Linked DNA regions of Homo sapiens. The protein of the gene in region 2 purifies or fractionates together with the protein of the main gene of each other region. This does not show direct contact. Each region holds a gene or a part of one and is shown on either strand. Other genes may lie near its edges.

Region 1 (3,500 bases), on a different chromosome or scaffold from region 2:
TTCCGAAGATGCTTCCTGACCGTATGGCTTAGCATAGGTTCACTTTCACTTGTTCCTCCTGTAGGGAAAAAAAAAAAAATCCTAATTTTTCATTCTGATTCGGGAAGAATGAAAATGATCCTTTTTCATATTGTTTTATATAGCTTCCCAGCTTCACATCTACCCTTCCCCTTACATACACACTTGGGGCTTACATCTAGGCCTTTTCTCTACCCTAATCTTGAGGAAAAAAAAATATATCAAATAACACCATAAGAAATACCTTCAGTAACACATCATATTGTATTTACATATCTACATATCTTATCACAGCAAACTCAGTGGAGGAAAGGGCTGTAATTATCACATTTGGACTACTTCAAATTCTGAAAACTAGACTATATTTAAATAATAAAACCAATTATTACATTTACATTTAACCAAGAGATTATATAAAAATGTATTACTGGCTGGGTGCAGTGGCTCACGCCTGTAATCCCAGCACTTTGGGAGGCCGAGGCGGGCGGATCACGAGGCCAGGAGATAGAGACCATCCTGGCTACAGTGAAACCCTGTCTCTACTAAAAATGCAAACAAACAAAATTAGCCGGGCGTGGTGGCTGGCGCCTGTAGTCCCAGCTACTCAGGAGGCTAAGGCAGGAGAATGGCATGAACCCGGGAGGCGGAGCTTGCAGTGAGCCGAGATTGCGCCACTGCACTCCAGCCTGGGCGACAAAGCGAGACTCCGTCTCAAAAAAAAAAAAAGTATTACTGCTATATACCTATGTATATAGATTAATGTGTCTTTTCACGGATTCTAACAGGCTAGTTACAATGGACTGTAAGTCATGGCATTAACTCTATGTCATGACTTGTTACAAATGCACTCACAATGAATTCTTCCTGAGAGCTCTTCACTGATGCTCTGGTTACCTTCTTTGTATTTTTTAGCATTATAATAATAGCAAAGGTATTTTACAGGTGTTCTTTTTCAGGATGTTCTATCCAAATGCAAAAATGGATGAACTATTTTCCTTGAGAGAATTTATGAAATATCACTTAGGTATGAATGAATAAAGGTAGGATATGGGATGAGAAGAAAAGCTGGGGGAAAATATTCAAATCATCAAAGCTCATATTCTGCAAGAAAAGACTTGACTCCTTGGTGAAATTCAGCAGGTAAAAAAAAACAGATAGAGGTTAACCCCGTAGCATGCAACACAGCAGAGAACCAGTCCTCTACCAGACTTCACCCAGGTACCAAGAGCCAACTCTGATTGCGCCTTCAGATCTCTTATTTCCTAAGTCCTACTAGTTCTTCTTTTGCTCTGTAGCATATATATTCCTTTCTATTTCCTTTGTAAAAATCTTGGCTGGGCACGGTGGCTCACGCCTGTAATTCCCAGCACTTTGGGAGGCCAAGGCGGGCAGATCACCTGAGGTCGGGAGTTCGAGACCAGCCTGACCAACATGGAGAAACCCCGTCTCTAATAAAAATACAAAATTAGCCGGGCGTGGTGATGCATGCATATAATCCCAGCTACTTAGGAGGCTGAGGGAGGAGAATCGCTTGAACCCAGGAGGCAGAGGTTGCGGTGAGCCGAGAACGCGCCACTGCACTCCAGCCTGGGTAACAAGAGCGAAACTCTGTCTCAAAAAAAAAAAATCTTATTTAAGTCCATTTTCCCTAACTTGGGACTATTACAATGACTTCTTAAGTTTTCTGAAAAATGTTTTCTATACTTGGCTAATTGTAGATTCACTTTCAATTTTTCCTATAGCAAAAACAAGTAGAAATCATTTTAATTTTTGCAACCTAAAATAAATAACTTATATGAGTAGAATAAAAACCAAACTCTAAAAAGGCTCTTTAGAAGTTCTCCTTTTCAAGGATCCTCTAGTTCAAGCTTTACTCCTCCCCCACCCCACCAATATTAATGTGACATAGAATTTGTTTTCACCCTTAATCCAAACTTACATTTTCTATCACCTAGGCAAAAGCCTCCTACCAGACCTACTCACATCCTGTCTACTCCTATAGTCCAACCTATGTATTACCACAAGTAATATTTGTAAAGCACATTTTGGATCATACCACTCCCTTGCTCAAAACCATCATGCCCAATTCACCCTTCTTCTTAGTCCTAGAGCAAGTCCCTGATTTAGCTGTCATTCAAGGTTCTCTGCACTAAAGTCTCAATTTACCTTTTGTCTTATCTCAGTAGTCGGACCCAAAGTAGACTACTGATCATTTCTAAAAACATGCTCTGGGTTTTCCTGTATCTAAACTTTTTAGTTCATGCTATTCTCCCTGCAGGAAATGCCCTCCTTAATTTTCACCGTTGAAATGTTATCCATCCTTAAATTTAAATGTCCAGCTTAAAGGCCACCTACTTTATGAAGCCCTTCTCGGTGTTCTTAGCTGAAGTTTCTTGCCTGAACTCTCTGGGCTTTTTTGGGGCCCTTAGCACTTGCTGCTTTTCTTTTGGTTCAGTTGCTATGAAAATGTAAGTTCCGTGAGGCTCTCAGGGTTATTCCTCTTAGCACCTCTCAGTGCCTTGTGCCCCAGTTGCTCCACATATACATTACACAAATTACTCAACCACTCAGTATTATGTTGGCCAAATAGCATCACTGAAAATAGCCTATTTCAGTCTTCCTCGAAATATAAATTATTTGGAGATTGTTTCAAACCTATTCCTATGCATATATAAAACAGGCCCTTACCTATAATTTCTTTGCAAGGATTTTCAGGAGTGATGGGGACTCTGCAAGCTGGACACTGGCTATTATTCTTCAACCACAAATCAATACAAATCGAACAAAATACATGGTTGTTGATGCATATGACAGGCTGACGTACCTTTGAAAAAAGAAATCACTTTTAGTACAGGACAACGGTCATAATTAGAAGATCAAATGGTTTAGTTTACAGCAAACTGCTTCTCTAGATTATAGCAGAGTAGGAGTTTAAGAAGGGATATCTAGCGCTTTTAAAAACACTGCTTCTGTTGGTCACTTTTCTTTTTACACATGTTTAACAGAGATACTAGATGAGATACTGGATCATGGAGACTGAAGCTTTTGACATATAAAATGCTTTATTTTGTACCTAAACCACAGAATTCATGCCAAAAAGAAAATGCTTTTTGTTCCACTAAGGCTGGGACAATTTTGCTCAAACTCTTCTATTTTAGCATTATAGAACAGCAGGATTAGGTTTTTGAAAATATCATTTAGCACAATCATCCATCTGATGCCCGAATCCTTTTCTCAATTCATTCCACTGTTACAGAATAACAGCAACTATTAAATATTGTATTGATACTTTACTAGAAATTCCCCAAAACCAAACAGTAATGAAAGCTAAAACAACCCAAAAGGCATGAGCTTCACTCTCAAGTAGTTTATAATCTAAACAGCAAACAATGCAGACAGAATTACTGAGATACACCAAATACACAAATCTTTGACTCCAGGCTCCATTTAAACAAGCACAAATAATAATACCTTACATTTAT
Region 2 (3,500 bases):
AGAAGGAAAAACAACCTCTAATCCTACCTCCCAGAGATAACCTTTCCAATCTGCATACCTTCAATTTGTTTTTGTTTTTGTTACACTAGCTACCACTTCTCCAGCACGATATCCAATAGGAGTGACAAGATAAGACATCTGTTTATCTGCTAGAAAATGTGCTCGTGGCACATGCTGGTCTAGAGCAAGCATCAGCAAACTTTTCTTCATAAAAGGCCAGATAATAAATACATGTGGTTTTGCAGGCTGCATGATTTCTGCTACTTCTCAAGTCCACCGTAGACATGTGAAAGCAACTACAGATAGCACACAAATGAGTGAGTGTGTCTGTGTTCCAATAAAACCTTCCTTACAAAACAAATGCCCCAGGTCTAGATGAGTCCCTCAAGCCTGTCGAAGTCCCTTAGAGCCAGCCTCAAACGTAGCTCCTTCAACAATGTATGCCTTCTGAGTCCTAGAGATGGGTGGGCTCCCTTACAGGAAACAGAGGCAGACATGGGATGCTGATGTCAGAGCAATTGGGGACTTCTTTTTCTTCCTTCTGAGTCTGACTTTCTGCCCTGAACCCCGTGGTCATGTCTCCTCCTCATTCTAACTCATGAGAAAAGAAAAAGACACAAGAGAGGCAAGGTCTCAGCTGCCACGGATTTGGAAATAACTGTTAAATAAGGGATGCACCCCCCTCACAGACATTGTCCATTCTCTCCCCACACGATGCTTGTTACACCTTATCTATATTTTAACACTGGTATACATAATTAATGTAATAACTTTACCTCCAGAACAAAAATTTCTGGAGGCCATGACCACGTCTTATATATCTCTGAATCCCACGTAACACACCACAGACAAGAAAAACAAGGTTGAGATGGTCCCATCCTATTTTATCTATCATTTTATCAAATCCCTATTTCTATCTGGCACTCATCAACAGCAGACACCCAGGCTCCAAACACACAGATGGCCTATACCTGACTGCTTCCTCCTTTCATGACTGTCAAATGTTCCTTCCCATCAATTCCCCTAGAGTGGGGCCCAGGTGAGCTCACACCTGAACATTTCAGAAAGGCTGATATAGAAAACATAAGTACAAAGGGTTATACACAGAGACAGGGAGATCTTTGTATAAGGGGACAGGGGGCTAGGTGACTGTCTCCTGTATGGGCAGGCAGGGACTCTGCTGACTGCACTAGTGAATCTGCTGAAAACCCTGCTCAGGAAGGCACAGCAGCCTGCCTGAAGCACAGAGCCACACCCGCCTGCCCCTAAGCCCACCTCTTCCTGACAAGCTATTGGGGGGATCTCCAGAATCAGGGTTCATTCTACTCTGGGATGTGGGGCAAGGCCATTTTTCAAGCGACCAAATCCAGAATCACGTGTGGTAAGGACCATCCTTGAACTTTTCTCAGAAAACCTTTTTGATCTCTAGGCCAATCTGAAATTCTGACGATCTGCACACCCCACAGTATTTTAGGATCCTTTAGTGACAACTATTTTTCATGTAAGTAACATTTCCATTCTCCTCCTTCAGGATGTTAGAAATACACAGAGTACAACATAGAAGGGCTAAGAGTCATGCTTCAAAATAACAAAACAGGATGTGATTAAGACAACTTTGTCACATATTTCAAAATAAAATACTTGTCTTTTCTCCTTGATTCTGAGAAATGAAGAAGAAGGAAGTAGGGTGTAACCGTGAAGACAGGCAATTATTTTAAAACATGAAAATTTGGCCGGGTACAGTGGCTCACTCCTGTAATCCCAGTACTTTAGGAGGCCAACGCAGGTGGATCACTTGAGCCCAGGAATTCGAGACTAGCCAGGGCAACATGGTGAAACCCTGACTCTACAGAAAATGTAAAAATTAGCCAGGCATGGTGGCATGCACCTATAGTCCCACCTCCCTGGGAGGCTGATGTGGGAGGATCACCTGAGCCCAGGAGGTTGAGGCTGCAGTGAGCCCTGATCACACCACTGCACTCCAGCCTAGGTAACAGAGTAAGACTGTCTAAAAATAAAAAATAAAGTAAAATTTAAAAAGTAAATTTAACATGTACCATAATGAACCAGTAGATGCCCCAATTTATTTTTTGAAGGATTTTAAAATAACAAGTCAGAGACATACTACCTGGAAAAAAATATTTCTCTAGTCTACACATAATTTCAAGTGACTTTATTCTGCTTTATTCTACCACTTTATTCATCTAGCAAATATTCATTGAGCATCTACCATGTAAAAGAAATATATGAAATGAAATGAAAACTGTCTGGGCGCGGTGGCTCATGCCTGTAATCCCAGCAATTTGGGAGGCTGAGGCGGGCAGATCACTTGAGCCCAGGAGTTTGAGATCAGCTTGGACAACACAGTGAAACCCTGTCTCTGTGAAAAATACAAAAATTAGCTGGGTGTGGTGGTGCATGCCTGTAGTCCCAGCTACTCAGGAGGCTGAAGTGAGAGGATCACTTGAGCCCAGGAGGCAGAGGTTGCAGTGAGCTGAGATCACACCTCGGCACTCCAGCCTAGGTAAAAGGGCGAAACCCTGTCTCAATAAAAGACAAAAAGGAAAAAAAAGAAAGCAATGAAAACTGGCTTCTGATTCCAGGAGTTTATCAGCAGGGAAGAGAAAGCAGTATCAACCTTTATATAAACTTGCCCAAATAGCTTAGGACCAGCACATGTGGAGACAAGAAGAAAATGAGATGGGTGAGACACAGGGGCCTGAGGTACTGGGGAAGGGGAAGTGGGAGGGCTCCAGAAAATGCTGGCTGCATCTCGCAACAGCCAAGCATCCTGTGCTGGGTGTACTGAACATAAAGATGAGTAAGATCCAGTTCCACTCATGGAAGGCTTTCGACTTGGGGTAGAAATGAAGTTATTAATAGCTAGCACATATCAATTCATTTAATACTCTCAGTATAAACTAAGTACCATCAGTAACCCCATTCAAAGTCCAAGGTCACATCCTTCCTAAGAGGCTGTACTCCTGAGCTCTACACCTGACTGCCTTTCAGCAAGTGGAACATGATTAGCAGATAGCTGAGGATAAAACAAGGGAGGGTAAAATAATTACTGAAGAGAGGGAAGGGGAGGAAACCCTCACTGAGTTGCTTGGCACTTGGTGTGCCGGCCCTGTTTTCTCCAGCCTTCATTTCTACCACTCCCCTCCACCCCCACCAGCCTCCTACTAGGCCTCAACCTCAAGCCATGGCAGGAGGAGGAAGGAGGGGAGCTCCAGAAACTGGGGACAAGGCATTTTTGGCTGTCAATGACTGAAAATACCAGGAATACTATTAGTTCAATTAAAAAATAATCACTGAGGCAGGCCACAGTGGCTCACGCCCGTAATCCCAGCACTTTGGGAGACTGAGGCGGGTGGATCACTTGAGGTCAGGAGTTTGAGACCAGCCTGGCCAACATGGTGAAACCCCATCTCTACTAAAAATACAAAATTAGCCAAGTGTGCTGGCTTGCACCTGTAATCCCAGCTACCTGGGAGGCC
Region 3 (3,500 bases), on a different chromosome or scaffold from region 2:
AGAGATAATTCAAAGGTAAATTACCCATTTAAAATGTTTTTCTTGGTTTCATAACAAATGTTGATAACGAGTACCATTAATTGGACCTTTACTATAGGCCAGATAGTGAGCCAGACCATACACATACCAGTATTCCATTTAATCCTCAAAATAATTATCTCTCTAAAGGCAAAACTTCTGGGATACTGATGATAAAATTGAGGTTTGGAGGAGTGAAATGACTTGCCTGAGGTCCAAAACTTGTAATTGGCAAAGCTGGGGCTCTAGCCCAGGGATTTTCAAGCATTTTTTATTCTGCACCCACAATATGTTATTTATAACTATACACATGCACCACTGTATTAACAGAGTATGAGATAAAAGAAACATAAGTAGAAATTATAATATTTTCCTCTAACATCCCAATGAATTGTCATACACACTGCATTTTGGAAATAATCATGTATTACACAAACTTTATTCTTCATTTTACAGTTCTTCCTTTATGTTCCTCTCTGCTCCCTTAAAAGCCCAATTAGTCCAGGTTCATTATCTGTTGAGGCTAAGTCTCCACTCATCATTGCTCTTTTAAGAATTCTTTATATTCCTAAAAGTCACATAAAATGCCTGTGAAGTTTTGGCAGACAAATACATGCAGTTGCTAACAGTTTCAGAAGCAAACAAGAACTCCATCTAGTAGAGTAGTTTACTGTTTTACTAAATATTATTTATACCATAGGAAGCCATTTTTTTAAGTTACTTTTGTGTGCCAACCATAAAAATTTAAATCTAGCTTTTTTAGAAATTCACAGGAGAAAACTGCCACTGTATTATGAAATCCTTCTTATACTTTTAATATTTCAAAGCAGATTAAAACTGGCAATAACAAGCAACGTTAATTATGATAAATACACCTAATATGAACCATATATATATAATGATATAGTGTTTAAGTTTTATGGGTACTATGGCAAAACAATTCATATTATATGATGATATATACCTTGAGAACAAGACCAGTTATTTTATTTTAGAGACAGGGTCTCACTCTTGTCACCCAGGCTGGAGTGCATGGTGCAATCTTGGCTACTGCAACCTCTGTCTCCAGGGCTCAAGCGATCCTCCCACCTCAGCCTCCTGAGTAGCGGGGACTACAGGTGCGCACCATCACACCTGGCTCATTTTTGTAGAGATAAGATTTCATCATGTTACCCAGGGTGGTTTGGAACTCCTGGGCTCTGGCGATCTGCTTGCCTTGGCCTCCCAAAGTGCTGGGATTACAGGTGTGAGGTGCTGGGATTACAGGTGTGAGCCACTGGGTCTGGCCCAGTATTCTTAATTTATCTAAAATAATTACTATGTTTCACATTCTTGGGGAAATACTGAATATGCGTTTTAATCAGAGATCTGTGAGTTTTAATCAAACACAAAATTTTAAAGAAATATAATGCACAAAAGAGAAAAGATAATTCCAGACTGTAGTGGCAATAAAATATTACTTCCCAAACAAAATTCTATTAACAAATGAGCTACCTTGTTAAAAGAAACTGGGAATTCTGTAGAGTCTGCTGACTGCTTTCTGTATTAGCTATGTTGGTTGTTGCTGTGGATTGTGTGATTGTAGTGGTGACACTGCTTGTGTTAGTACGCCGGGTTGCGTTGCGTGCGGTCTCCAGTTGTTGCCGTGCTGCCTGGGCATGCTGCCGTTCTAGCTGCAGCTGCATCTGCAGTTGTTGTAACTGAGAAGCGGAAGGGCCAGAGGAATTAAGCTGTCCTCCTGCAGAACGTCTCACTCCTGATAACTGAGATAAAAGCTCTGCCAATGGAAATGAAGACAATTAATGTCTGCTTAATACTGAGGAAAACAAAACGCTACAGATCACTCTTTTACTGGAACAACATCAAAAGCATTGTGAACAGGTAGGTAACCACCACAGCACACAGTTTAAGAGCTGAATCCTTCTAGAATGCCTCCTGAAGGCAGGAGTTACTGTGGACAGAGAATGCAAATGCATACGAATATTAACCCAGACTGAATTATGTTTGAAGTAAAACTTAAATTGTCTTTAAAATTATTTGCATAATAGACTAATTTAGTGAAGCTTTCTCTTAGTATTTAATGAAGTGGTTTATCTGTGGGCCCAATTATAATATAAGCTCTCTCAATATGTGTTCCATGGAAGCAGGGATGAGGTCTACTGTTGACTATATTCCCAGCTATCAGAACAGGGCCTGATATAGCAGGAATTCAAACATTTACTGAATGACTGAATGAATTATTAGGATTCAGTCCAAGAGGCCTGGATCATTTCTGATGGTGGCCCTTGCACACTCTCTGCCTCTGCTTTCTCCCTCTAGTACCTTCTGGTACTGCTGTTTCAGAGTACCACTGCAGTAGATACCACTACCAGTGCTCAGCAAGGCTGACTGGCTCCTGAGAACCTGCTGCATCTGACTGTACAGCCTACTTAGTGGCCTGTTATGATCCAGACTGTCTTGTGTCCATAAGGCTGTACTCATTAAGAGAGGTGTAAACTTTTGTCCCCGCATCCTCATCTAAGTAAGGTACAGTGAAATGCCTTCTTCCAAGTGGAGGGTCCACCTCGCTTATAGGGAATCGATGACTGCCTTGCAGACACTTTCAGGCCAGCAAAAACTCTTTATCATTAAAACTCATTAACAGTTTGTTTTCTTGCTCACTGTTGCTTTATCCCAGGCTTTTTATAGCACTCTTATACCACTCTTTCATGGAATATACAGTCTATCACTAAAATAAACTAATTTTCACTGACAGAAAAAAAATCAAATGAAGAAAATTTCTCAATTTTGAATTTTGCTCCCAGAAACTACTTTAATTTTTAGTGCCTGCCACCAAAATAGCAGGTAAATATTCCCTTTGGATGAAGAAATATTTTTTAAATCCCCCAAACTCAGTTTATTAGGCTTGTTTTTGTTGTTGCACACACAAATGTCCAAAGCACATTTGGAATTAAAATTTTATATGGTATATCTAACTTTTAAATAACATGATAGGTATAAAATTGTTCTTAGGTTGTTTTTCTTTTTTAAATTTTTATTTTAGGTTTGGGGGTACATGTGAAGGTCCGTTACACAGTTAAACACCTGCCACGAGGGTTTGTCATACATATTATTACATCACCCAGGACCCAATTAAGCCCAGTACCCAACAGTTATCTTTCTGCTCCTCTCTCTCTTGCTACCCTCCCCCAGTGTCTGCTGTCTCCTCCTTTGTGTTCCTAAGTTGTCATTTAGCTCTGATGTTCTCAGTTTCTATTACAGATTTACACTTATCAATGTTTCAGGTGTTCTGCAGGGTGCTCATGGCTTCCAGGTAGGTGCACACTTCACCACATGGACACATTTCAGAATTGTTGCTTTAAATGTGTGCACACTTCCCACTGTCTTACCACTTGTCTGCTTGGTGTGTCTTGCAGATTATCAGGCTACAGTGATTTCTTGTATTTTATTTTGACCCTGTGTTCTGCTACCAACTTCCTAGG
Region 4 (3,500 bases), on a different chromosome or scaffold from region 2:
ACCAAGGGATTGGCAGAATAGAATGCTGAAAGGAACCTGGGTCCTCCAGAGCTTTGAGGAGCCTCCAAATCTACCCTGGGCTGCCTACCCAGAAAGCCACTGCTATCTTGTTTAGGTCCCTCTTGAACTACCCCAGATATTTCAGAGCTGGGACTTACACTCATGTAGGCCCTTCGGAGGTGCATGGGGAGGTTGCGGCGGAATTCCCGCTTGTTCCTCAGCTCCCTTAGGGTGAACTGCTTCAGGATTTCACTGTTGCTCCTTCCACCCACCCGCACAATGCTGGTCTTCTGACAATTGTAGATGCCTGTGGAACAAAGTGGAGCATGGCAGGGTTGAGAGGAGCTTATGCTAGGTTCTCTCAGGTGAGAGCTGTGTGTATTTGGGATCTAGTCTGGTCCCTTAGAGAATAAACTTGTGCTTAAAGGAAATTTACCCCATTAATGAGTGAGAAGGTCCCCGAGAAGATGTGACCTGCAGAGCAGTAAAGTGTAGCACTTAAAGAGTACAGGTTCTGGAATCAGACAACTAGGGATCCAACTCTTAGCTCTACCACTTATTGCTGTGTAACCTGGGGCAAGTGACTTGAGTCTCAGTTTCTCTGTCTGTGATTTAGAGATGGCAATATCTCCCATATAGGGCTACAGTCTGGATAAATGAAAGAAAATCTTTAAAGCTCCTAGCTAGGGCCCAGCACAAAGCAAGCACCCAGGATATGTTACATATTTTTCACTCTGCAGATTTACTGATTGCTCATATGTTTTAGGCATGTGCCAAGTTCTGAAGATATAGCAGTAGAAACATAGGCCCAGTTTCTGATTTGTTATCATTTCTTTGTCTCTGGCAGGAAGTTACTCATTAAATAATTAATACGGCAGCAATAAATGTAGTGAGTACTGGTAGCAGGGGACATTACCTAGTCTGGGTGGGGTAGGGATCTATTTTTAAGAATCTAATATTTAAACTCAGACTCTAAGAATAAAGATTTATCTAGGTGAAAGGGAGGTATAGAAGAATAAAAATAAAGGAAAAGCATATATTTATTCATCCATTAATGTTATTTAGTATTTTTTGAGTGCCTAATATGTGCCAGGATATGTGAATACAGCAAGAAAAGGACCAATCCTCATCTAGGGTAGCGATACATAAAATAGATTATAAAAAAATAAAAAATGCAAAAGAGACTTCACTTTGGGGCTATAGAAAAAGTCCACCTGAGAAGAGAGATTTAAAGTGGGACCAGAAGAATGAGTAGGGCCAGGTTGAGTAGGGCCAGGTTGAATAAGCTCAAGATGGAGAGGGAAAAAACTATTCCAGGCCAGAGGATGGCATGGGCCAATGGAGGACGTAGAGGCTTTCAAGGAACTGAAGATAACCAGTGTTGCTGGAGTTAGGGAGAACAAGGTTAAGAAGTAGGAGCTGTGGTTCACAGTCCAGCTGGGACAGATCACAAACGGCCATGTAAGTAATGATAAGGACTGTTGACTTTGTTTGAAGAGCAATAGAAAGCTACTGAAGTTGCTGATGGTTCAATCATCAACATCTTGATAGAGAACAAATTTGCCTATAAGTATTACCTTCCAGAAACTGGTCCAAAGCATGATTAGTATAACACACAACCAAGATGGGGAACTTCTGGAGGCTAATTTGCCAAACAGACTCGTTGGTTAGGAGGGCCTGAACAATTTTTAGACCCACATAGGTTTTGCCTAGAAAATAAGGAAAAAGGAATTTAACAATTTAGACATTTTCTAAATAAAGTAATTACTCAGAGCAAAATCTTTTTTTAAATTTAATATAATACATTAAGATAGTTTAAAATCTAAGAAGCGTACATTGTATATTGTGAAAAGTCCCTCTTGCACTCTGTCACCCAGTTCTCTGGGTGGAAGCAACCAATGTTACCAGTTTCTTTTGTAACTTTACAGAGACAGTATATCCACGCATATACAAACAATACAAATGTGTATTCTTTTTCTAGACTTCCCCTTTTCTCCTTAAAATATGAATAGTAACAGACAATTTTTACCATTCTACATCTTGATTTTTTTCACTTAATGTATCTTGAAGGTCATTCTCTATCAATACATAGGAGAATCCCATCCCCCCCACCCCCCCCTTTCCTTTTTACAGCTGTTAAGGTATTTTTTAGCCAGTTTTCTATTGATGCTGTATATATTGTTTCCAATCTTGTGGCAAATTAGAAATACTTTTTATATACATGGTAGATTTGCTTTTGTGATGGGAGGGGAAAACTTGTAGAAATCAACATTGGAATAAGAGTTATAGGCTCATTAGTAAATGGCCATTAATTAATTAATTAGGCTAAAAACTGCTAAATTCTCTCTTTTTGTTTGAGATGGAGTTTCGCTCTTGTTGCCCAGGCTGGAATGCAATGGTGTGATCTTGGCTCACCGCAACCTCTGCCTCCCGGGTTCAAGTGATTCTCCTGCCTCAGCCTCCCAAGTAGCTGGGACCACAGGCGCATGCCACCATGCCCAGCTAATTTTTGTATTTTTAGTATAGATGGGGTTTCACCATGTTGGGCAGGATGGTCTTGATCTCTTGACCCTTGTGATCTGTCCGCCTTGGCCTCCCAAAGTGCTGGGATTACAGGCGTGAGCCACCATGCCTGGCCTGCTAAATTCTTACATTGTGTCAGGCTGGTAAGGTAGACACTGTCCTCAAAAATCTCAAAGTTGAGGGAGGGAGTGATATAAGATAATCAAAGATTTCACTACAGCAGGATAAGTAACAATTTCTTCCTTCTTTTTTAAGGCCCTATGTTGTCCAGACTGGAGTGCAGGGGCTATGTGTACTGCAGCCTGAACACCTGTTTTCAAGGGATCCTCCCATCTCAGCCTCCCAAGTACTTGGTACTACAGGTACTCGTCAAGACGTCCAGCTTTGTTACATAAAGTTTTTTTTTTTTTTTTTTAAATCATGAGTTGCCATTACTTCATTGGTGTTTTTTAAAGACTTCTTCCTGTTTGGGGTTTTGTTTTCTTTTGGTACTTCCTTTCGGAGAGTAATTTAGCAGTAGCTATTTTAACTGTTAATGTAAATTCCCACTTCTAATAATAGTTATGACCCCAGAGTAGAATTAGAGAGTGGCACCTGGGGAGAAAGGTATGGGAAGGTATAGTTCCACGACAAGTACAATGTGGCAGATAGGAGCCAGGATTCTACAGCTAGACTGCCTGAATTCAATTCCTAAACTTGTCACTTAACATTTGTGTGAGCTTCAGTACATACTTCCCACCTCTTAAGAGGTTATTTAACCCTTCTTTGCCTTAGCTTTCTTCATCCGTATAACAGTTTTGTTTTTTTTTTTGAGGTGGAGTCTTGCTCTGTTGCCCAGGCTAGAGTGCAGTGGAGCGATCTCAGCTCACTGCAAGCTCCGCCTCCTGGGTTCACGCCATTCTCCTGCCTCAGCCTCCCGAGTAGCTGGGACTACAGGCGCCTGCCACCATGCCCGGCTAATTTTTTTATATTTTTTA
Region 5 (3,500 bases), on a different chromosome or scaffold from region 2:
AGTAACATATTAGGGCTGTGCAAAAGTAATTGTGGTTTTTGCCTTCTAAATAGTAAGAAATACTCTTACTTTTGCGCCAATCTACTAACAATGTTGATAAGGATGTAAAGAAAAAACAATTCTGAACGCTCAGAGTTCTCAACTGGTAGAGTCATTATGAAAACCAGGGTGGGGGGGCGTTATTTAAAAGTTAGAAAAAGATAAACCTACCCTGCAACGCAGCAATCACACTTCTGTGTATATAATAACTGAAGGGAATAAAAGCAGCATCTTGAAGAATTATCTGCTCCCTCATGTTCACTGCAGCATTATTCACAATTGTCAAGATATAAAGACAAGCTAAACGTTTGCGGATGCTGAATGGATAAAGAAAATGTGATATAAATAGACAATAGAATATTACTCAGCCATAAAAAAGGAATGAAATCCTGTCATTCAACCACGTGGATGACCCTGAAGGACATCCTGCTAAATAAACTCAGCCAGGCCCCAAAGACAGAGACTGCACGTTCCCCCTCAGACGTGGAATCTGTCGTGGCTGAACTCACAGGAGCAGAGGACAATGGCAGTTGCCAGGGCCTGGAGTTGGGGAAAATGAGCTGTTGTTCAAAAGGTACAAACTTTCAGTTGTAAGATGAGTAAGTTTGGGGAATCTAATGAGTAGCTTCACGAATACTATTAATAATCTTTTGTATGCTTAAAGTTTGCCAACGGTAGACATTAACTGTTCTCACTACAAGAAAAGGTAATTACGTGAAGTGATAGATTTGTTCCTTGAAGTGATTGCACTAATTATTTCACAACGTATACACATATCAAATTATTACATTGTACACAATATATACACAATTTTTATTTCTAAAATAATCTGTTACACATATGCCCACATAGACACACTGTATATATGTGTGTGTATATATACATGAATGGATAAAGAAAATATGATTTAAATAGACAACAGAATATTACTCCAGCATAAAAAAGAATGAAATCCTATCATTTCAAAAGGATATGTTGATATATTATATATACACACATATATGATATATACACACACATATATACACACATATATACACACATATATACATATGCACACATACATACATATGAATGACAGAGTCCTGATAAGCCTCATACTAAAAAAGAAGAAATTATAAAATGATAATATTATAACTATTACAGTTGGGAGTTAGGGAATATAAAGTTTAAATGACCAACCTCAGCTCATACTAAAAAAAATAAAATAAAATGTTGAAGTAAAATAACATTAGATTATCTCATATTTGGGCAGATGCCTAGTGTTCGGAGAAAACTGCTGAGTATACATTTCTGTAGACTCCCATTTGAAACCTCTGTAGGATACGAAATCATAAAGCAGAAAGCATACAACATCTGTTTACGGGACTTCTGGGATTTCTGAACCAATCACCATCACCACGCCTCTCGCACACTTCAGACATGATGCAAAGGAAATCAAAAAACATTTAACAGAGTTCCTCAAAAACAGGCAGGTACAGGCATGTTCCCAAAAGCAGTGGCGGAGCACGCCATGAGACCACACAGGCCCTTACTCGTCAGGAGGAGGACTCTGATTTTTACTGTAACCTTTATAAAGGAAGATCACTAAACAGGAAGCAGAGTCTATACAAAATTTGAGAGAATGAGACAGAAGACGCTCCTAGGGTACAGCAAGAGAAAGACACCCAGGCTCTCAGAAACCATCTCCACTAGGGCAGAGCTTCTCAAACCACATTTTAAGGTCTGGCTTCCTCCTCGACCTCTGGACCTCTCACCTGGGTTACCTGCTTCGTTCATTCCCACCCACCTGGATGTCCGTCTGCTGCCTCCTGTCTCTTCACATTCCAGGGCTCTTTTCGTTGCTCCAGGCAGGTGATCAGGCCTGGCTTACAGACAGTGAGACCTGTTTTATTAGAAAAAAGTGACATTACTCTTGCTGAAATTCTCCAATTATCAACCTTGTACTGTGCTTAGTAGAGTGAACATTATATAAGATTCTAGAAAATTAATCCCAAAATTATGCTTCCTGACATCACCTTTAGAATATTCAGTAAGTATTTTAAATCTGTGGGTTCTTAGTTTCACCACTCAGTACTGCTGACATAAAAAATTGGTGGTGGAAATTTGACTTTAAGTTGTGGGCAACAATATTTCATGCCACTGAATTTCTGGAATTGTCACTAGAGTGAAAGATACAGATCAGCTGAAAAAAAAGGAAGGTTTATGTCAAGATGAACCACATTTTGAAGATTTTTTTTTTTTTTACATCAACTATTCCCCATGTTTTTCTTAAAAGCAGGGATCTGAAACTCATTCATGCAACGCAGAAACTCCCAAAAAACATTCCGCAGAGGAACGAAAGGAACTCTTTAGGGCATAGGAGGAACTACGTATTGAAGTTATCCTCACCAACGGAGAACAAGTTTCTGTAGTTCTCCAACATCACATCCCTGTACAAATTCTGCTGAGCGAGGTCCAGGCATTTCCACTCCTCCAGGGAGAATTCTATGGCCACATCCCTGAACGTCAACAGAGTCTGAAGAAGAAACAACAACAATAACAAATACTTGATTCGAGGTGAAATGAGCGAGTGAAGAGAACTGGTTCTGACTTACACAAGTGACTGAAATTATACAATAAGGTAATTCTTAGCAGAAGAATACTCTCTAACTCTGAGGAAAGAGAATTGCCTGAGAGCCACATAAGCAGTGTATATACAATACTTTTCTGGTTGATAACAAGTATAACATTAAGGGCATCAACAAAGGCATGTCCATTTTTGAGTGCTACATTTACGTCACATGAATAAGCTGTGTATATTTCGCAGGCAGAAAAGTCATGGTGAGTTAGAAGCTGCCTCTCCAATTTTCATGTGTCCAATAAACTAGTGTGCAGATTTTGCTTCAGGAAATCGGAGGTCAAGGCTGAGTTTCCGAATTTCTAACGCGCTCACCAGTGATGCCAGTCCTTTGGGCCCAAGGACAATATTTTGTCAAAAATCCTGTAAGTGGCAAGCTTGGGTTTATCCCAGTTTTTCTAAACCATAAAGAGAGATGAGATTCTTCATCTTCTAAAGCAAGGCATATGCAAAAAGAATCTAAGAAGCAAAACCTTTCAGATTAAATGTGATTATTTATGCACATTAATTAGTAAATCTCCTCAAGGTACTTAAAAGAGAAAAAAATAAACTCCACAATGGAAAATCTGTCAGGGAGCTCTTTAAACAACTGAATAAAACTAATATCAACTGTAATAGGACAGATTTTTATCACGTGCCAATGCACAGAGAAGGACATATTACTGGTGTGATATTGGCCAAAAGGTCAATTATAATCTGAATCAAATCATACCGAAACCTTAGTGTTATGCAAAGTTCAAGAGACAAATAAATATCTCCCAGGTTCTGACAAATATCTCCCAGGTTCTGACAAATATTTCCCAGGTCCTGACAAATATCTCCCAGGTTCTGACAAATAAAT
Region 6 (3,500 bases), on a different chromosome or scaffold from region 2:
AGATGGAATCTTGCTATGTTGCCCAGGCTGGAATGCAATGGCTATTCACAGGCATGATCCCACTACTGATCAGTACAGGAGTTTTGACCTGCTCCATTTCTGATCTAGGCTGGTTCACCAGGCAACCTGGTGGTTCCCTGCTCCTGGGCTTGTTTCTTGGTAAATACTTTGTCTATATGGAATGCATCTAATAAATGAATGCTCTCCTAGCATCTTTACTCAGAATTATTTTTCATAATCTACAGATGGAGAGAGAAAGAACTCGTGCTAATAGGGATCACTTTTGGAGACTGTAGCAGAAAGGGTTTACACGTAGGGCTACAGATGCCTAACCCTTCCTTATTCTGCAGAATTGTTCCTTTTTTTTTGAGACAGGGTCTTGCTCCATCACCCAGGCTGGAGTGCAACTCACCACAGCCTCAACCTCAGCCTCCTGAGTAGGTGGAATCACAGGCCTGCACCACTACCACGCTCAGCTAATTTTTTGTTTTATCGTACAGATGAGGTCTCGTGTTGCCCAGGCAGGTCTCGAACTCCTGAGCTCAAGCAATCCTCTTGCCTTGGCCTCCCAAAGTGTTGGGATTACAGGTGTAAGCCACTGTGCCCCACCAGTATAGTTCCTTTAATAGGTATGCTTAATATATGTTCAAACTTAAATATTAGATAAGGAGAAGGAAAGCAGCTTCTTTGGGTTGCAGGAAACAGGCAATCTGTAATAAGATACAAATGAATGCCATTAATGAAATTTAACTGCTTTAAGGCTTTCTAATCATAAATGTCAGCAGATAAAAAGCAAGGACTTCAGATAATTCACCTAATTGGGATGGCCTGTGCCTAATCAGGATATTTGGATTACATTTTCACATACAGGACAACCAGCCTTCAGCTAATTTAAATTTGAAGAAAGGTCTACTATGGCCCTAGGCACGCAGTGTGCTCAGACTTCAGATACAATTTCAATCCTACCAGGACATTAGAGTGAAGAACATGAAAAACAAGGTATAAATTGGATACTCTATATTAAATTAAGTCTAGACAACTGCAAATTCAGCCTTGTATCTTTACTACCACATCACTGTATTGCTGCAAAAGTCCATCTGGGACATAAACCAAGGAGCAATAATTCCTTTTATTTATTTATTTTTGAGACAGAGTTTTGCATGGTTGCCCAGGCTGGAGTGCAGTGGTGTGATCTCGGCTCACTGCAACCTCTGCCTCCTGGATTCAAGTGACTCTCATGCCTCAGCTTGCCGAGTAGCTGGGATTACAGGTGCATGCTACCACACCTGGCTAATTTTTAAATTTTTAGTAGAGATGGGGTTTCACCATGTTGGCCATGCTGGTCTCAAACTCCTGAGCTCAAGTGATCTGTCCAACTCGGCCTCCCAAAGTACTGGGATTATAGGCTTGAGCTACCGTGCCCGGCCCAGGAACAATAACTCCTATAGCTAGAGTTGGAGTGGGAGAATGGGAAGCTGGTGTGTGTGGAGGGGGAGGTGTTGGTGGATTCTCTTTATGTGTCCCTCAAGTCCAGTCTGTGGAAGAAAAAGTGGTTTTAAAAATTCCAAGTAGGTATTCATGTTCATGAAACCAAGTATGCTTTTCATTATTCATTCACTCAATATTTATCAAGCTCCTATTATATACCAAACTCTGAGCTAGGTGCTAATAATTCAACAATGAATAAGACAAGGTTCCTGATAGGGAGAGAAACAATAAATATAATTTCATGCTGTGAAGGAAATAAGCTGAGAAATAAGACACAATTACCAAGAGGTAAAGAATAAATTGGCCAGGCGCGGTGGCTCATGCCTGTTATCCCAGCACTTTGGGAGGCTGAGGCAGGCAGATCACTTGAGGCCAGGAGTTCGAGACCAGCCTGGCCAACATGATGAAACCCCATCTCTACTAAAACAAAAAAATTAGCCAGGTGTGGTGGCATGCACCTGTAATCCCAGTTACTCGGGTGGCTGAGGCATGAGAATCACTTGAACCTGGGAGGTGGAGGTTTCAGTGAGTCAAGGTTGGACTACCGCACTCCAGCCTAGGTGACAGGAGACTATCTCAAAAAAAAAAAAAAAAAAAGACTGTGGGTAGGAAATTTATATAGATTCAGGGAGCCATCTATTTATTTTCTCCTTGTTAACTCCTACCCCATAGTTCTATGACAGCTGGCTTAAGAAATAGGTTCTTATTTCTAGTGAAGGATAAGGCAAAGCATCAGGTAGGCATAATCAAAGATCCACTTTCATGCCAGACACTACATTATTTTATAATTATAGAGCTCAACAGTGAAACCCCGTCTTTACTAAAAATACAAAAATTAGCTGGGCTTGGTGGCACGCGCCTGTAATCCCAGCTACTCGGGAGGCTGAGGCAGAGAATTGCTCAAACCTGGGAGGCGGAGGTTGTGGTGAGCAGAGATCATGCCACTGCACTCCAGCCTGGTCAGCAGAGCAAGACTCCATTTCAAAAAAAAAAAAAAAAAAAATTACAGAGCTCGACAATCTGGTATTATTGATACCATTACCATAAAGAGATTACATCAGAGGTATAAAAAGATATAAAACAGAGTCTTTGTCTACAATGTTTTTAGAGTAAACACTAAAAAATACAATACACAATAAAATAAAGACCATGCTCAAAGTGTCAGTGATGGGGCAAATGGCAGGTGGGCAGCTGTTTTCAGATAAAGAGGTAATTATGGTAGGATGGAGAGATCACTGGCATCTGAGTGATCATAAATTATGATATTGAACCAAACAAATGCAATAAGAATGAAAAGACTTGGCCAGGCGCGGTGGCTCACGCTTGTAATCCGAGCACTTTGGGAGGCCGAGGCAGGCGGATCACGAGGTTAGGAGATCAAGACCATCCTGGCTAACATGGGTGAAACCCCGTCTCTACTAAAAACACAAAAAAATTAGCCGGGCATGGTGGCGGGTGCCTGTAGTCCCAGCTACTCTGGAGGCTGAGGTAGGAGAATGGCGTGAACCCGGGAGGCGGAGCTTGCAGTAAAGCGAGACCGCGCCACTGCACTCCAGCTTGGGCTACAGAGCAAGACTCCGTCTCAAAAAAAAAAAAAAAAAGAAAAAAAGAAAAGAAAAGACTTTCGCTAGCCAGGAAGACTACTGACACATCCTCATAAAGAGCTAGAGGCAGAAGACACAAATACTGTTCTCTTCCAATGAGAGTCTGAAAAATGATTATAGCATAAGAAAACCACAAAGGATTTACTTCATTCCATATTATCAATATGAATCCTGGTCAGGAGGAGGGAATGAATATTTGCAAGAGTGCCTTCTTAAGACCAAAGGAAATAAAGAAATGAACATCACATGGAGTCTTTCCTCAAGGAGCTTTAAGGCTAAAAGCTAGAAAGGGAAACTGAACAGTCATAATTTTCATTTTGAGATATAAGATAACATGTAGAGGACTGTTAAAAAAGCAAGACTAGGCTGGGTGCGGTGGCTCACCCTGTAATCCCAGCACTTTGGGAG
Region 7 (3,500 bases), on a different chromosome or scaffold from region 2:
TTAGTCCCAAACAATCTGTGTATTTCCTGATTGCAGAGTCAGGAAATACTTAACTTTTGAAGCAATAATGGTTACTCCTGGGAAGTTTTATAATTGGCTGCATAGTGATAACGTGGACTTTAATAAATACAATGAAAATACCGCCAGCTTATTTAGAAAGAGAGAACTTAGAGCTAATACTGAGGACTACACCAGTTTGGCAAAATCATTGCTCTTCGTGACCACCTCCAGTTTCCAGCTGGCTTCCTGATCAAAGGTATCTTTCCTTAGTGCTTTTTCACTCTCCAGATTTTCTCCTGTGTTTGTTCAGGTCTTTGAACATCAGTGTTTGGTAGTTGTAGAATTTGTTTTATTTTGAAATCAGGTAAAATGTAGTTTATAAAATGTTAATGGGTTTTTTGAAGTATGTTAAGTAACTATGATAACCAATTAATGAGAAAGAACAGCATGACATCAAGGAATCTAGAAGCAATATTTTTTTTTTTTTGTCTAGAGTGAGGAATTGCTTTAATGTCTGAGTCTTGGTACTTGATTCTAAATTGTTTTAGTGAGGTCACTGAAGGTGTAACAACAAAATACTAGCTAAAGGTGGCACTGTGCTTTTTCTAAATATAATGAGACCCTTATTTCTGTTGAATTGATTCCTGTGTGTTAATGGAAATGGATCATTTTAACAACTTGCACACTACTTCAGGTTTAATCATAAAGGTGATTTTTCCCTCTCTTGATTGTACATTATCCTGCCTTTATATTGGCATTAATCCAAAAATTAACTCACAGAATGTGGATCTCGATGAGACCTTATCAACCATCTATCAAGTTCCCCCATTCACTTTGCTCTTGAGGAAGTTATCTGGCAGAGGTGCAACAACTATTCCCAGAGGTCTTGAGCAAAATATTGGGGATAGAATATAAACCTGTCAGTCCCTAGTTTGGTTGAGCCTCTTTCAGTATCATTGTTTTGTGTTAATAGATTAAATGCTGCCACTGAGTAGAAATCTTGCCTTAAATTGGTGTGTGTAAATCGTCATTAGGCTCTGTGGGTTGTAGGCAGATTCTGAGCAGCGGAATTATTTGTAGCTACAATATGTAGCTAGGGTGTGTAGCTTGAGGTGCTCTATAACATTTAGAGTCATTCTGGAAACATACCGTCACTTCCTAGTTTGGGTGAATGGTGAGCAGAGTGAGAAGCCACTGCTTTCTATTTTTGGGTGTGACAGATCTCTTGAGTCACCAACGGGAATTTACTAAACTGTCTCAGTCCTGAAGAATTTATATCAGAGTTCTAGGTAGTTTTTCACTCCTATATATATGACTCTGTTTGCTGTCAGCATTCATTCAAGTTCTTCTGAGCCCAGACCATTTTCCTAGTGGCCACAGGGAGGAATTCTAGTAAGCAACAAAATCCCCCCAACTCAGTCTTTCACTTAAGAGCTTATGGTACGATGGTACAGGAGAAAGAGATATTGAAAAGATACAACACATATAAGAAGGATTCAAATTCGTTCAACAATATTTGTAAATGTATGTATAAATATATGTCAGTTAACACTATGCTACAGGAGAATCCTATGATTCCAAAATATTGTATGTATGTACAAGTACTTGATAGAAATTTTATTTCTCTTGCATTGTTTCTGATGAATCCCTTAAGTAAATGCTTCAATACAAGATTTTCATGATTCTCTGATCACTCATTTCCCCGCTATGGATATTTTACTGTGCTTATATGAGCAGTGTGCCCCTTCTGGTGTGGCCTAAGTGAGTAGTCAGGGGCTGTATAATGCTAGTGTTTATACTCTGTGTTTCACATGAGGATAAGCAAAAAAAAAAAAAACAGAGCTGTTGTTAGATTAGTTTTGCAGAGTCTCTGCAACCCATGTCATTCAAGTTGTGGTTAGTCATAACCTGAGAAAAGGTAGTAAAGGTAACTAGAACCAGTTTTGTGTTGTAATATTAGCATCTTAAATTATTAAAGATTAAATTATGTACTCAGTTTAGAATTCAAGATGATAAACTTTGCTTATATAAATTGGATCACTTACAGAATTACATTTAGGTGTTGAGTTTTTACCTGTAGTCACAGGGAAGGATCCTGGGAGACTACAGAAATTCAGCCACAAATCAGTTTTTCATGTAAAAACTCTTGATATGGCGGTAGAGAAATTCAAAAGACTTGACACAATTAAGGTTGAATTGACTTTATGTGCAATCTCAATTGTAGAATGGAACTCTGAGGTTGTATGTAAATCATTTAAATATTTGTAACAAGATAAAATATCTGCAGTAAAATCAGTGCTACAGGCTATATTTCTGATTCCGTACTCTGTAGAGACACTTTTGGAGGCATACTTGGGTTAAAAATTAGATGAAAAGTATTTAGTGGAAATCAGACAAAAAGATTTTGGGTTAAAAATCAGATTAAAAATATTTAGTAATCAGATGAAAAGTAGAGAGAAAGAAGAGATCATTCTCCTAGGGCTTTGCCCACTAGAATCATTTTATTTTTTGCAGGTTTGCACGGTTGAGTGTCAGCTAGCTCACTCTCCATAGCTTTGGCCCTTGCCAGGTAAGGTAAATCACATACTAAGGCAGTAAGAAAATGATGAAGGGTTGAGGTTGCTAGTCACATGTTAGCACAGATACCTGACTTTGTCCCTGAGACATGGCAAGTGTTCAGGGTGAGTCACTGAAGCTATAGCATGTGGATTTTATCCTTTCATAGGAAATACTTGGTCTAGCAAGCGGAAATTCTTGTTATTTGTAAACTATGAATGTTCTAGCAGTATATCCCAAATAATTACAACAGCCCCTCCTTATCCACAGTTTCAGTCACCTGTGGTCATCTGTGGTCCGAAAATATTAAATGGATGTGGCAATAAACTGTTAACATCTCTGAACTCAGAGACCTTGTGGGAGGAATGTGCCTTGTATGTTGGAGAAATAGCAAGGAGGCCATTGTGGCTGGAGCTGAGTAGAAGGGAATTTAGTAGGAGATAAACTCTAGGAACCAATTGCCAATCAGGAAATCTTTGAATCCACCTACGATCTGGAACTGCACCGCCCCCACCATGCACACTCCCCACCCTGCCCCTTTGAGTTCTCCCACCTTTGTGGATCGAACCAATGTACATCTTACATATACTGATTGATGTCTCATGTCTCCCTAACATGTAGAAAACCAAGCTGTAGCCCAACCACCTTGGGCACATGTTCTCAGAACCTCCTGAGGCTGTGTCATGGTCATGCCCTTAACCTTGGCAAAATAAACTTTTAAACTGATTGAGACCTGTCTCAGATACTTTTTGGTTTATAGAATGTACCACATTTTATTTATCTCTTCACTTGCTGATGGACGTTTGGATTGTTCTCAGTTTTAGAGTTGTGAACCAGAAAATCTGAGACAGGTCTCAGTTAATTTAGAAAGTGTATTTTGCCAAGGTTGAGGATGCGCACCTGTGACACAGCCCCAGGAAGTCCTGATGACATGTCCCCAGGGT

The links.
Region 1: the proteins of UPP1 (region 2) and OBI1 purify together in Homo sapiens (affinity purification with mass spectrometry; one large-scale study listed by BioGRID and IntAct). This does not show direct contact.
Region 3: the proteins of UPP1 (region 2) and KCMF1 purify together in Homo sapiens (affinity purification with mass spectrometry; one large-scale study listed by BioGRID and IntAct). This does not show direct contact.
Region 4: the proteins of UPP1 (region 2) and ZNFX1 purify together in Homo sapiens (affinity purification with mass spectrometry; one large-scale study listed by BioGRID and IntAct). This does not show direct contact.
Region 5: the proteins of UPP1 (region 2) and ZNF195 purify together in Homo sapiens (affinity purification with mass spectrometry; one large-scale study listed by BioGRID and IntAct). This does not show direct contact.
Region 6: the proteins of UPP1 (region 2) and SLC31A1 purify together in Homo sapiens (co-immunoprecipitation; one large-scale study listed by IntAct). This does not show direct contact.
Region 7: the proteins of UPP1 (region 2) and TBC1D4 purify together in Homo sapiens (affinity purification with mass spectrometry; one large-scale study listed by BioGRID and IntAct). This does not show direct contact.

The regions. Positions count from the first base shown.
Region 1 is NC_000013.11:78,642,156-78,645,655, forward strand, and holds part of OBI1 (ORC ubiquitin ligase 1), read right to left. Parts: intron 2,843-3,500; coding exon 2,707-2,842; intron 1,398-2,706; exon of another isoform or gene 871-1,397; intron 59-870; coding exon 1-58. UniProt on the Homo sapiens protein: E3 ubiquitin ligase essential for DNA replication origin activation during S phase.
Region 2 is NC_000007.14:48,095,765-48,099,264, reverse strand, and holds part of UPP1 (uridine phosphorylase 1), read right to left. Parts: intron 1-3,500. UniProt on the Homo sapiens protein: Catalyzes the reversible phosphorylytic cleavage of uridine to uracil and ribose-1-phosphate which can then be utilized as carbon and energy sources or in the rescue of pyrimidine bases for nucleotide synthesis.
Region 3 is NC_000002.12:85,047,661-85,051,160, reverse strand, and holds part of KCMF1 (E3 ubiquitin-protein ligase KCMF1), read right to left. Parts: intron 1,796-3,500; coding exon 1,513-1,795; intron 1-1,512. UniProt on the Homo sapiens protein: E3 ubiquitin-protein ligase which accepts ubiquitin from an E2 ubiquitin-conjugating enzyme and then transfers it to targeted substrates, promoting their degradation by the proteasome.
Region 4 is NC_000020.11:49,264,558-49,268,057, forward strand, and holds part of ZNFX1 (NFX1-type zinc finger-containing protein 1), read right to left. Parts: intron 1,710-3,500; coding exon 1,578-1,709; intron 308-1,577; coding exon 159-307; intron 1-158.
Region 5 is NC_000011.10:3,369,147-3,372,646, forward strand, and holds part of ZNF195 (zinc finger protein 195), read right to left. Parts: intron 2,558-3,500; coding exon 2,431-2,557; intron 1,925-2,430; coding exon 1,829-1,924; intron 1-1,828. UniProt on the Homo sapiens protein: May be involved in transcriptional regulation.
Region 6 is NC_000009.12:113,252,544-113,256,043, reverse strand, and holds part of SLC31A1 (high affinity copper uptake protein 1), read right to left. Parts: intron 1-3,500.
Region 7 is NC_000013.11:75,363,670-75,367,169, reverse strand, and holds part of TBC1D4 (TBC1 domain family member 4), read left to right. Parts: intron 1-3,500.